Homo sapiens: one gene and its partners. The protein of the gene in region 1 purifies or fractionates together with the protein of each later gene. This does not show direct contact. Each region holds a gene or a part of one and is shown in the gene's direction. Other genes may lie near its edges. The genes, in order: PRR15, KLHL26 and PAGE5.

Region 1 (4,364 bases):
CCTCCCAGGTTCAAATGATTCTTGTGCCTCAGCCTCCCCAATAGCTGGGAATACAGGCGTGCACCACTACACCCACCTTGTTTTTTATTATTATTTTTAAGTAGAGACAAGGTTTTGTCATGTTGGCCAGGCTGGTCTCAAACTCCTGGTCTCATGTGATCCACCCGCCTCGGCCTCCAAAGCGCTAGGGTTACAGGCTTGAGCCATCTTGCCCGGCTGTCTTTCACTGCTTTTATACTGCAAACAGTTTTCACAACAGAGATGCTCAGTTGCTCCACACCCAGTCCTTCAGGGGAGTTATGCTTGCATATGAGCTCAAGGAACATCAAAATCGTTTTTTGAAACAAGAGCATCCTGGAAGATGAAGCAAGCTGCACCTCTGCCTTCATTAGTGAAAATGCCCTGTGCCAATATCTTTATGTCAAATGAATAAAAAGTACTCTTGGCCGGGCGCTGTGGCTCACGCCTGTAATCCCAGCACTTTGGGAGGGAGGCCGAGACGGGCGTATCACGAGGTCAGGAGATCGAGACTATCCTGGCTAACACGGGGAACCCCGTCTCTACTGAAAATACAAAAAATTAGCCGGGCGCAGTGGCGGGCGCCTGTAGTCCCAGCTACTCGGGAGGCTGAGGCAGGAGAATGGCGTGAACCCGGGAGGCGGAGCTTGCCGTGAGCCGAGATCGCGCCACTGCAGTCCAGCCTCGGCGACTGAGCGAGACTCCGTCTCAAAAAAAAAAAAAAAAAAAAAGTACTCTTATGTGACCAGGAGTGCAATCCCCGGTTCACTTCCTGCAGTGGCTCAGGGCTGGATTTACACTGCCCTCGTTGGGTGGCTGTCCATGGACTTCCAGGCCTGAAAGAAGGAAATTCACATCCTCACTGAGTCGTGTTAAGAGTCTCAGACTGGCAGGTTGTGGTGGTTAAGACCGTAGAAGCTAGAGTCAGGCCCCCTGGGTTCCAACCCTGCTCTGCCACGTACCAGACAGGCAAACCTGAGCAACCATTTTCCCGTGCTAGGGTTTCCTCGCCTGTCGAGTGAGAATAATAATAATAACAATACCTACCTCCTAGGGTTGCTGTGAGAAATAAATGACAATCCACAGAAAGCGCCTGCAACGGCGCCTGGCTGGCAAACAGCGGACTTGTTAATTACAGCCTTTCAACTAAGGGCGCCTGAAACTCGCAAACATTTTGCTCGGGTGTGGATTCGCTCCCGTTAGTTACAAACTTGGGATCCCGGGACCCGGAAAGCAAGGGGGAAAAATAAATCGCGATGGGGCCAAGGGACAGCTGCTGCGGCAACTTTTACCCAGCGGAGCCCACCTACAGCCTCAGCCTCCGGGTCTCAGGTCTCCGCCGTTTCTTCTCAAGGAGTCGGTCGGGGGAGCGGCACTGCACAGCTTTTCTCCAATCAGACACCTCAAGGCTGGCGCCTGATCCAATCTCCTCCCCTGGAGGGTGGGAACGCGAAGTTCCTACCTGCACCTGTGGCAGCGGTGACCGCCTCCTGGGTTATTTTCTTTTCTCCCCCAGCTGCCCCAGGGTTCTGGTTTCCCGAATCACTTGGCAAATAACCAGCAGGTGGGCAGATGTCTTTTTTGCGTTCCTACGGACGCGTAGGCAAGTTCGATGCGCCGGAGTGAACAGCCAGGGTCCCATCTCTCAGCCGGCTCCCGGGCGGTGCTAGCAGGGAAGAGGGACGCGCCGGCGAATGAAACACTACTAGCCCGGAAAGCCGCCCTGGACCTTCCACCCGGGCAGCGAGTCTGGCGGCCCCTCGCCGCCGCCCCCTCCGACCAGAACAGACTGCGCTGCGAGCCCCGGGCTTCCGCCGCAGCGCGCAGCAATTGGAGGTGCCAGAGGAGACCAGCAGCAGCACTTGATTTAGCTGGGCTGCGGGAATTCCGACCTGTACACTTTCCAGAAGCCTGATCTCTCCAAGTCCGCGCCCAGGGACTCGAGCCCCGGCTTCCAGGTTGACCCGAGCGCGCCCCCTTCGTGCTCTCGGCCGCGTTCACCGCGCGAGGCCTCCGGGTCCTGTTAAGCCCGAGCAGGTGAGCGACTGGGGGTGGTTCGGCGTCCGCCGAGACAGAGCCTGGCCCCGGGGGTCACCCTGGGGTGCTGCCTGGTACCTCCCAGGTACCCGCCTCCCGGAGCCCTAAGAGAGGCTGAAAACCACGGACGCTCCAGGACTCCGTTTTCTGTACTTTTGAGTAATTTGCCATCTTTTCCTTGCGCAATTCGTACAAAGCCCTTCCGTGCTCACAAAGTTGATGATTGTGAAGAAGAAAATGTAGGTTAGAGGAGAGGAAGCAGCATCAGGACACCTTACCACCACTGTTAGTAAATGACTTGGGGGTACGGGTTGCTTTTCCGATCTGCAAAGTAGGAGGGAATGGGATGTTTGCAGACGCAGTTGCTAATTGTGCCTGAGGGCGTGGGTGCCTTTTGTACCGAAAGAACTTTTGGCCGTTTTTTCTTGTATTGTTTTCAAGTCGCTGCCCGAGTGTGTCCTCAGGGCATCCTGGGGAGGAGCCGGTGTTGCGGTTTCGGGGCGCAGCCGAGGCCGCCCCGCCGCCTCCCGTAGGCGATCAGACTTCCTCTCCCTGGCGGTTCCGGGAGGAGAACCTCCTACAACAAACACCGCCGAAGTTTCCCTCTCCAGCGCGATCGCCAATCCCAGGAGCGCCCGGCGCGTGGGCTGGGAAGGAGCCGAGCGGAAACCTGGAAGTGAGCCGCGGCGCAGGCGAATCCTGCCGTTGCTGGTGGCAGCGCCCAAGAGACCCCGCACAGAAAGTGGGCTGGGAGTCTCGCTTGCTGTACCCGCACCTAAGTGCTCAGAAGCGGCCTTTCGCTCTGCAGAGGGGGGGTCTTAGAAGCTTGGGGAAGAAGCACATTGTTTCGGAGTTCCTTGTTGCGTTCTTTCTCCTTGGGAGGAGGGAATTGCACAAGGAAAAGAAGAGAAGCCTTTACTTTGTAACTGAAATTCTCCAGAGTTGAGTTGCGTCGTACAGACTCGGTGCATATTTTAATACAAAACTAAGGGAAGAGGCCATTTGATACTTGGCTTCATCTCAACCGTCAGCCGGGGGTGACTTCAAACAGACGCAAGATTGGGCTCTGGGGAGTAAAAGGAAGAATTAGGATGGCGGTTTTCAAGGGAAGTTAAGTCTAGACATGCTTCTTTGAAAGTCACAAGGCAGAAGTGGTCAAAAGTAGAATTTAAAAGAACCAAAACAAATATCATAAGCTTGTCCTTCTCTCCTACTGGGATATAAATTCTCCTAAGTATCTCATCGAAAAGGCTCCTGGGACGAAAGTCGATGGGGGCAAATCTTGGAGGGAAATTTCGTGACTGTTTGACCATGGACTAATTAATACCGTTCACCTGTAGAGAGGATGCACTTGGTTCCCAGCGCCCTCCTCCCAGGTGCTTATCCAAAGGGAGGCCGCCCTGGGTCGGATGGGTCACCTTTTGGCGTCCATCTACAGTCAAGCAGTGTGGACAGGGCGGTCATTTTCCCTCTAGAGACGGGTTGATTCAGAGGGGTGGGAACGTCCCTTGGGTCCCCCGGGCACGCTGACCACTGCACTGCACTTCCCCTGAAGGAAAGGCAAAGGTTGAAGCCAAAGAGTTCAAGGCTCAGCCTAGAGACCAGGTGATGGTGCCCTGGAAGACACTTCCGCCAGCACCCTATGGGGCGCAGTGGCGTCTAATGCTAATGTGGGCTACGTAGCTACGGGATTGGGTCGCTCCGACCCTGGCCGATCCGGTGCCAGACAGCATAAGGGAGGAAAGGGGACTGGGGGGGGCACGTGACTTCAACCAACCCAGTAACCAAGTTTTGTTTTCTTCCCCAGCACAGGCCGCTGCCTCAGCATCCACCCCGCAGCCCACGTGTGGCAAGCCGGGGAAGGGGTGGAGTGAACGGCCGGAGACCACGTGGAGAAAGGGGCCGCTTTGGCCCTTCCATCTGGGTGCCGGGAGCCCCTAGGCCCTCCGGCCATGGCCGACAGCGGCGATGCTGGCAGCTCCGGCCCCTGGTGGAAATCGCTCACCAACAGCAGAAAGAAAAGCAAGGAAGCCGCAGTGGGGGTGCCGCCTCCCGCCCAGCCCGCTCCCGGGGAGCCCACGCCACCTGCGCCGCCCAGCCCGGACTGGACCAGCAGCTCCCGGGAGAACCAGCACCCCAATCTCCTCGGGGGCGCCGGCGAGCCCCCCAAACCAGACAAGTTATACGGGGACAAATCCGGCAGCAGCCGCCGCAATTTGAAGATCTCGCGCTCCGGCCGCTTTAAGGAGAAGAGGAAAGTGCGCGCCACGCTGCTCCCGGAGGCGGGCAGGTCCCCGGAGGAGGCAGGC
Region 2 (4,334 bases), on another chromosome or scaffold:
TCACCTTCCGGCACTTCCTGCAGATCGCCGAGGAGGAGGATTTCCTGCGCCTGCCACTGGAGCGCCTGGTCTTCTTCCTGCAGAGCAACCGGCTGCAGAGCTGTGCCGAGATCGACCTGTTCCGCGCGGCCGTCCGCTGGCTGCAGCATGACCCGGCCCGGCGGCCGCGCGCCAGCCACGTGCTCTGCCACATTCGCTTCCCGCTCATGCAGTCGTCCGAGCTGGTGGACAGCGTGCAGACGCTGGACATCATGGTGGAGGACGTGCTGTGCCGCCAGTATCTGCTGGAGGCCTTCAACTACCAGGTGCTGCCCTTCCGGCAGCACGAGATGCAGTCTCCGCGCACCGCCGTGCGCTCGGATGTGCCCTCGCTCGTCACCTTCGGCGGCACGCCCTACACCGACAGCGACCGCTCGGTCAGCAGCAAGGTCTACCAGCTGCCTGAGCCGGGAGCCCGCCACTTCCGCGAGCTCACGGAGATGGAGGTAGGCTGCAGCCACACGTGCGTGGCCGTGCTGGACAATTTTGTGTACGTGGCCGGGGGGCAGCACCTGCAGTACCGCAGCGGCGAGGGCGCAGTGGACGCCTGCTACCGCTACGACCCCCACCTGAATCGCTGGCTGCGCCTGCAGGCCATGCAGGAAAGCCGCATCCAGTTCCAGCTGAACGTGCTGTGCGGCATGGTGTACGCCACGGGCGGCCGCAACCGAGCCGGCAGCCTGGCCTCCGTGGAGCGGTACTGCCCCCGGCGCAATGAGTGGGGCTACGCCTGCTCGCTGAAGCGCCGTACCTGGGGCCATGCTGGGGCCGCCTCAGGGGGCCGCCTCTACATCTCGGGTGGCTACGGGATCTCAGTGGAGGACAAGAAGGCCCTGCACTGCTACGACCCCGTGGCCGACCAGTGGGAGTTCAAGGCGCCCATGAGCGAACCCCGCGTGCTACACGCCATGGTGGGTGCCGGCGGCCGCATCTATGCCCTCGGGGGCCGCATGGACCACGTGGACCGCTGCTTCGACGTGCTGGCTGTGGAGTACTATGTGCCGGAGACGGACCAGTGGACCAGCGTGAGCCCCATGCGGGCCGGCCAGTCAGAGGCCGGCTGCTGCCTGCTGGAGAGGAAGATCTACATCGTCGGGGGCTACAACTGGCGTCTCAACAACGTCACGGGCATCGTACAGGTGTACAACACGGACACCGACGAGTGGGAGCGGGACCTGCACTTCCCGGAGTCCTTCGCAGGCATAGCCTGCGCCCCCGTCCTGCTGCCCCGGGCCGGGACCAGGAGGTAGCCCCCAAGACCCCCGGGACCCTGGCCTGACCGCATGTTGTCTCCAAGTGGGGCTTGGCGAATGCACGTCTGCCTGAGAACCCCAGTGCCCCCCTTCGCCCGGGCTGCCCTTGAGGGGCCTGCTGCGTTGATAAGCCCCCCTCCCAGGGGTCCCTCCCTCCCTCCTTCCCAAAGCAGATCCTGGCTGCGAGTCCATCCGAGGGAGCCTGCCGGCAAAGCGTCTGACATGTGGTGGCAGCAAATTCGTCCCCGGGGTGGTTTCCTCGCCTGGCCCCCGAGTCCCCACGGGCTGGCGGGTGGAATCCCAGGTCTCCAGGGGGTCCCTGTGCAGCTCCATCTCACTTCTCTACTGCCTCCCAGCCCCACGGTTTCAGGCATTCAGATGTGAGCTCATCAACATTGAACCCAAAGTCGGTGGTATATGACTCACCCTCCTTCCAAGTCTCCTGCGCGCGTGTTTTTAAAATAAACTCACCCGAAACGTCCGTAACACACGGACCTCCAGGAGCAGTGAGAGGTGGCTTAGAAGCCCCTGGTTTGGGGTGGGTGGAGGAGGAGGGCACGTGTCTGCCTCCCCTGGGGTGCCCTCCTTCCCCCATCCCAAGCTGCTGAGGGGAGGCCCTGGTCATGCCTCAGTTCCTGCCTTCATCTGCTTTCCGGAGGAAAAACCATATCAACTCCTAGAAACGCTCCTTAGGGGCTTGGGACCTTCCATTTGGCACTGAGCATCTTGTGGGGCCTTAACTGGCTGAGACATCCCGGCCCTCTACATTTGCCCTGTTGGCCAGGCAGTCCCCTTCCCGCAATTGGAGGGCGACGCTAACTTCAGAATCCCATAGTGGCGCTTGCCGCAGGTCTGGTGGGGTGTCTTTTTTCTCCTCCCTCCTTTCCACCCCTCCGCGCCCTGCCACTCCCTGGCCTGCCCTGTTTTTGGGTCAACATTGCTACGGAGCCAGCAGTGAGGCCTTTCCCTTCAAGGGCTCTGTGGTATCTCTGGCCACATTTGTTCTAATGTCTGAACCTCTAAATCTTTTCTTTTTGATTGGTTTTACTGTTTTTAAGAAGCCAGCACTGCTGTCTCATAGATGGGATTTGTACTCTTGGGGCAACTTAAAGTGTCTCTCTCGCTGCTAACAGACGATTGATGTCTTGTCTCTGTGACCCACTCACCATGTAAAGAATTAACCTCCTATCTTAGCAGACATCGTCTCCTAATATTTCCCTTTATTTAATAAAAATGTTATGGTGAAGAGATGGAGCCGGCCCAGCACTGAGCTTGTGCGGCTTGGGTCTGATTGGTCACAGATTCCTCGTGTGTCCTCCGCGTGTCTGGGGGCTCCTCTCCCCCGCCTCAACCTTTTCCAGCCTTTCAGAGGAGTCGGCAGTGGGCTGGGCTTTGGCTCAGGGGCGCAGAGGCAGCAGGAAGCGTGGCCAGGACTTTCACCCTGGCGTTTTTTGTTGTTGGTTTTTTTGTTTTTTTGAGACGGAGCCTCGCTCTGTCACCCAGGCTGGAGTGCAGTGGCGTGATCTCGGCTCACTGCAACCTCTGCCTCCTGGGTTCAAGCAATTCACCTGCCTCAGCCTCCCAAGTAGCCAGGATTACAGACGCAGACACACACCACCACACCCGGCTAATTTTTGTATTTTTAGTACAGACGGGGTTTCACCATGTTGGCCAGGCTGGCCTTGAACTCTTGACCTCAGGTGATCCACCTGCCTCTGCCTCCCAAAGTGCTGGGATTACAGGTGTGAGCCACCATGCCCGGACCAACCTTGGCACTTTGGAAGAGCCTTCAGCCCCCTATTCTCATCATGGCCGGCCAAACTATGAACTGGGCTGCCCAGAGCAGGCCACTTATCAGTTGCAGGTTAGCAGAGAAAGCCTGATGTTCCCGGACGGCCTTCCCAGAAGGGAGGCCCTGGGATATCACACACACATGGATCTCCATAAGTTGCTGTGCCTGCATGCCTGGCGCTCCTGTGTGGCAGCCATCGGGGCTGGGGTAACACTAGAGGCTGAGGGGGTGGGCAGTGCTAAAATAGGAACATGGTTGGGAACCTAAAAGAAGCCCACACTGTCAGGGGCATCGAGACAAAAGCCGAGTTCCCTGGGGACTTACCAGAACATTCCAGCCCCACCCCCGACCTGAGCTCCCCCAAAGAGAACCCTTCCCCACTGGAGGCATGGCCCCTTCAGGGGAGCAGTGAGAAGCTTTGCCAGCTGCAAGTCCCCTGGATCAGCTCACACCTCAGAACATCTTGTCCCCAGTGAGCTGGCAGGGGCGCCGGCCCAGGGCGGGGGGCGCTGCTGTATCTAACCGGATCGATTGTGCATAACCGTCTAGGCCGGTTCGTGGAATGTTCGTGGGGCCCCCTGCCCCTCCCTCAGCCTCCCCCCGCATCCCCCCAAGAAAGGAAAATTATTTTTCGTATTGTAAACTTTAAACATGAAAAAGCTGTTTTTAATTTAGCAGAAACTGGCTTGAATCTTCACTTTGTGAACGTTTGTGTCCTTCAGAGGCAGAATATGCCTGCGCACACTCGCACATGCTCATGCACACACCTGCACACGCATGCCGCAACACGCACATTCACATGGCCGTGCTCGTGCACGCCTGCACACGCATGCTTGCCCATACCCACGCATTGCAGCGCGTTCACACGCTCACCCGCACACAGTGAAACACAAGCTCACACATATGCACACACACACATATCTGTGCATGCACCCCTGGACCAGCGTAGCCCAATCTGCCTGGCGGCCCAAAGGGGTCTGGAGCCCGGCACCGCCCCGAGCCTGGGGGAAGCCTGTCTACTTCCAGATGCCCTGCCTACTCGCTGAGGCCTGGACGCCGGCTGCAGGAGCCTCCCTTGCACCTGGGCTCAGGCTGTGGGAAAACGCTGTCTCTCGGGACGGTCAGATGCAGGCCCGCAAGAGGGAGGCCAAGTGCGACTTCTGGGGCCTCTCAGCAAGTGAGGGCCAAGGGGGCCTCTGGGGAGCCGTGTGAGGTGGGAATCCGCCCCGGACCTGGCCAGCTTGGAAACC
Region 3 (4,194 bases), on another chromosome or scaffold:
CTTCTATGAAAAACATAGTGAAGTGAAAGCAAACATCTGTCCAGAAGGGAATAGAACAATAAAAATGCCCAATAATAAATTTAATTTGAATGTGAAGAACTAATATGAAGCAAATAACACAGTCATTGTGAGGGATACATAAAAAGACTTGAGGAAATGAGGAGTGGCTTTTTCTTGGATAGAGAAATTCTAAAATAGAAAGATAGATATTGTCCCTAAGTTAAGATGTAATTTAAAAATAATACCTAGTGTCTCACCTGGAATATTTTAGCACCTGATCAAATGATTCTGAAGTTCATCTGAAAGACAAATGTGTCAGAGTAGACAGAAAAGGAAAAAGCAATGAGGGAGGGCAAGCATTATTTCGCATTACAAATATAATTAAGCTACAGCAATTAAAATAGTATACTAGTGGTACAGGTACAAACGACTCAATGGAAGAAAATTAAAATAAGAGAGTTACATACAAAATTGAGTGGGGATGTAGGTGATGATAAAAGAGCCACTTCAAAACAGTGGGTGAAACAGGGATTCAACAAATGATGTAGAGTCCCTACCACTTAATTTTGTTCAGATGGATCAATTTTTTTTTTGTTTGTTTGTTTTGTTTTTTTTTTTTTTTTGAGATGAGGTCTCACTTTGTTGCCCAGGCTGGAGTGCAGTGGCACGATCTCGGCTCACTGCAACTTCCACCTCCCGGGTTCAAGCAATTATCCAGCCTCAGCCTCCCGAGTAGCTGAGACTACAGGCGCGTGCCACTATGCCCGGCTAATTTTTTGAATTTTTAGTAGAGATGGGGTTTCACCATGTTAGCCAGGATGATCTCGATCTACTGACCTCGTGATCTGCCCGCTTGGGCCTCCCAAAGGGCTGGGATTACAGGCGTGAGCCACTGCGCCTGGCCCGGATCAATGATTTTGAATGTACAATCATGCAACAAAAACTATGAATGTCTTATCATATTGGAGTGGGTAAGATCATTGCAAGCATGACAGCAGACTCGCGAAGGCACAAGAAAATGATTTATGAAAGCAGATATAAAATGGGTATTAACATATATAATATTTATTTCTATGATGGCGAATTTGTCCGAAACACATTGTTTTCTTAGAGTAACCTGGGCCTCATATTCTCCAACGCCATTGGAAGTGAAAGGAAGGTTGGGCGGGGGAAAAAGAAAAGTGCTTTGTAAGTTCATTTTCGTTGTCAGAAGAGCTTGTGGTTTAGGTTCTCCACAGAGGCAGGAAACCTTCAGTCACGTGGCAAATACCCCACTGAGTGCGCATGCTGCACAGATCTGTTGCTGCGCATGCGCCTTTCTGCCCACCTTCTGTCTAGGCAGAGCTCTGCAAGGAGAGGTTGTGTCTTCGTTCTTTCCGCCATCTTCGTTCTTTCCAACATCTTCGTTCTTTCTCACTGACCGAGACTCAGCCGGTAGGTCTGCAGAGTGGTCTTCCTGGTAATTTAGTTGTGAGTGAATGTGTGGAGGAGCCAGCGGGCTTAGGACAGGTCCCGTGGCACAGTCCGTGGCTTTGAGGGAAAAGGGCCTCGCGGTGGTCCTCCGCCTTCCCCCAGGTCCTGATGCAGGCGCCATGGGCCGGTAATCGTGGCTGGGCTGGAACGAGGGAGGAAGGTAGGCCGTGGAGGGGGTAGATCGCCTGAAGATGGTGCGAGTCCTGGGGGTGGGTGCTGTTAGAGGTGTCTGAGTCCCGAAAACGCCTGGAACTCTCTGAGGGAGGACAGTTTCTGGACTCTTCGTTAGGGATGCGAGAAGGGATGGTGTGGGTGGTAAGGAAGGGGCCAGGAAACTGGGAACGCTGTGGGCTGGTGACTACGGCCCCGAGGTCTGTAGAGTGCCTGGCAGAGGTGTCCAGTGAGGAACATAACCTTAACTCTGTGTCGCAACTTCTCATCTCAGCCATGGACCTCATGGAAAGGAATGGTTGAGGCTGTGCATTCCAACAAAACTTGATTTTTCGGGGAGTGGGGAGGAGGTGGTGGTGGCCCTAGTATATCAGAGTGGGAGGAAAGCAGCAGTCACTTCAGTTTCAATTTTCTGCCCGTTTTTTTCCTAAATGTGTAAATGATGGAGAGTCTAATTGTGAAGCCAAAACTCAGAAAAGTCCTCTGTCTTTTGCTATGGCGTTAAGGTGTTTTCTGTGCCTCTTCGACTATGATACAAACAAATCTGTCCTTAGTTTGATTGGAAAGCATGCGTACTTATCAATGCTCTGTGACTTAGTTTGAAAATATTTTCAAAATTAAAAAAGTACAAATCACCATTTTGCCATGGAATGTTCATATATATAGCTAAGTTCTTACACACTTTTTCCAAATAACAATATTTTGTTTTCAGTGAGAGATATGAGTGAGCATGTAACAAGATCCCAATCCTCAGAAAGAGGAAATGACCAAGAGTCTTCCCAGCCAGTTGGACCTGTGATTGTGAGTCCTTTAGCATTTGATGTTTTCTATTAACACATTTTATTTTAAAAAATATTTTTGAGCGAGTGTACATGCACTGATACAGGTGTTCCATGCTAATAAAAAATGATGATGGCATCTCATGAAGGCAACTTTGGTTCAGGAATATTATATTCTGGTGTTGCCTTATGGATATGGATATTTTACTCTCTCTCTATATATATATCTATTGGAAAATGTCTTTAGATTTATGATTCGATGCACATATGCATTTGTGTGTTTATATTATTGACTTTTTATTCGCACACACACTTACACCCTTAGGTCCAGCAGCCCACTGAGGAAAAACGTCAAGAAGAGGAACCACCAACTGATAATCAGGGTATTGCACCTAGTGGGGAGATCAAAAATGAAGGAGCACCTGCTGTTCAAGGTGAAGGGAGAGTGGAGAATAATGCTTATGGGTGGTGGAGGTCTATTTATGCATTATATTTTGTGACATACCAGTAACAGGAGGACAGAAAACATTAGGAAGGAATCTTAAACATTTCTTACTGCTGCTGTGCGGAGGGGTGGGACAAGGACACATAAAAAGCCACAAACTTTCCTACCATTTTGACGGAGGCTTTTTATTGATTGGGTATTTGCATGGTTGCCGTAAACCTTTGAGTGTTTTCCAGAGTTCCTGTATGGTTTGTTCAGCTATTTTCTGTTTTTTGTTTTGTTTTGTTTTGTTTTATGCTTCTGTGGAAGAATGGCAGCTTGCAGCTTCCTAGTCTGCCATCTGCGGACATCTCTCATGTATTTTTATAAGATACTTTTTAACACATTTATTAATGCTTCCTCATGCTGTGTAATATACTAAGCGCCGGAGATGTCAGTGCCAAATTTTTGCCTAAAGCTCATAGTCTAGTCAGACTGACTCAAACAAATCACTGATTTAATGTGATAAGAATAAGAACAAATGAGTACAAAAGGAACAAGTAAGTTGTCTAGGGCCAGCCTTGGGAAAGGAAAGGGCAATGTTTGAACATTTCTGCTTTCCTGCTTTTCTGGCAACAGACTTCTGAAATAATTAGCCTACAGGTTTTTATTTCACAATGATGAGGGAATAAATATTATTACCTCGTTCATAGTTCATATTTTAATTCGTAAATTGACGACTTTTTATCTTTAAGGGACTGATGTGGAAGCTTTTCAACAGGAACTGGCTCTGCTTAAGATAGAGGATGCACCTGGAGATGGTCCTGATGTCAGGGAGGGGACTCTGCCCACTTTTGATCCCACTAAAGTGCTGGAAGCAGGTATGTTATTCAATAAGATGCAAATTATAGGGTTTCTATTTTCACAATATTGTATTTTGTGTGACACAGAGGTAAAATTACTGCTACTTTAATATCATACTTCACATCTAAAGATTCTTTGAAGGTAGTTCAGACCCCAAATGGCTGCCTTACACACTATCAGAGATAGAAGGCCAGGTGTGGTGGCTCATGCTGTTAATTCCAGCACTTTGGGAAGCCGAGGCAGAAAGACCACTTGAGGCCAGAACTTCAAGAGATAGAATAAATTGGGTCAAAGCTAATTGAGTTACGATATGAAAGATATGAAACATGCTAAGAGAGTAGATTTTGAGTGTCTTCACAGCTATATGAAATAATGCATATATTAATTAGGTTGAGCCGTTTTACAATGTATGTATATTTTAAAACATCATGTTTTACATGATAAATATATATGATTTCATGTGTCATTTTTAAAAGAAAGATA

Evidence for each region.
Region 2: the proteins of PRR15 (region 1) and KLHL26 purify together in Homo sapiens (affinity purification with mass spectrometry; one large-scale study listed by BioGRID and IntAct). This does not show direct contact.
Region 3: the proteins of PRR15 (region 1) and PAGE5 purify together in Homo sapiens (affinity purification with mass spectrometry; one large-scale study listed by BioGRID and IntAct). This does not show direct contact.

Annotation. Positions count from the first base shown.
Region 1 is NC_000007.14:29,562,323-29,566,686, forward strand, and holds the start of PRR15 (proline-rich protein 15), read left to right. Parts: upstream 1-1,512; 5' UTR 1,513-2,055; exon of another isoform or gene 2,056-2,340; intron 2,341-3,210; exon of another isoform or gene 3,211-3,431; intron 3,432-3,862; 5' UTR 3,863-4,007; coding exon 4,008-4,364.
Region 2 is NC_000019.10:18,667,957-18,672,290, forward strand, and holds the end of KLHL26 (kelch-like protein 26), read left to right. Parts: coding exon 1-1,289; coding exon of another isoform or gene 1,290-1,318; 3' UTR 1,319-3,765; downstream 3,766-4,334. UniProt on the Homo sapiens protein: May play a role in endo(sarco)plasmic reticulum (ER/SR) mitochondrial signaling. May be part of the ubiquitin-proteasome system (UPS) and affect ubiquitination and degradation of target substrates in cardiomyocytes.
Region 3 is NC_000023.11:55,219,019-55,223,212, forward strand, and holds the start of PAGE5 (P antigen family member 5), read left to right. Parts: upstream 1-1,327; 5' UTR 1,328-1,434; exon of another isoform or gene 1,435-1,581; coding exon of another isoform or gene 1,582-1,633; intron 1,634-2,356; coding exon of another isoform or gene 2,357-2,364; coding exon 2,365-2,445; intron 2,446-2,748; coding exon 2,749-2,857; intron 2,858-3,602; coding exon 3,603-3,728; intron 3,729-4,194.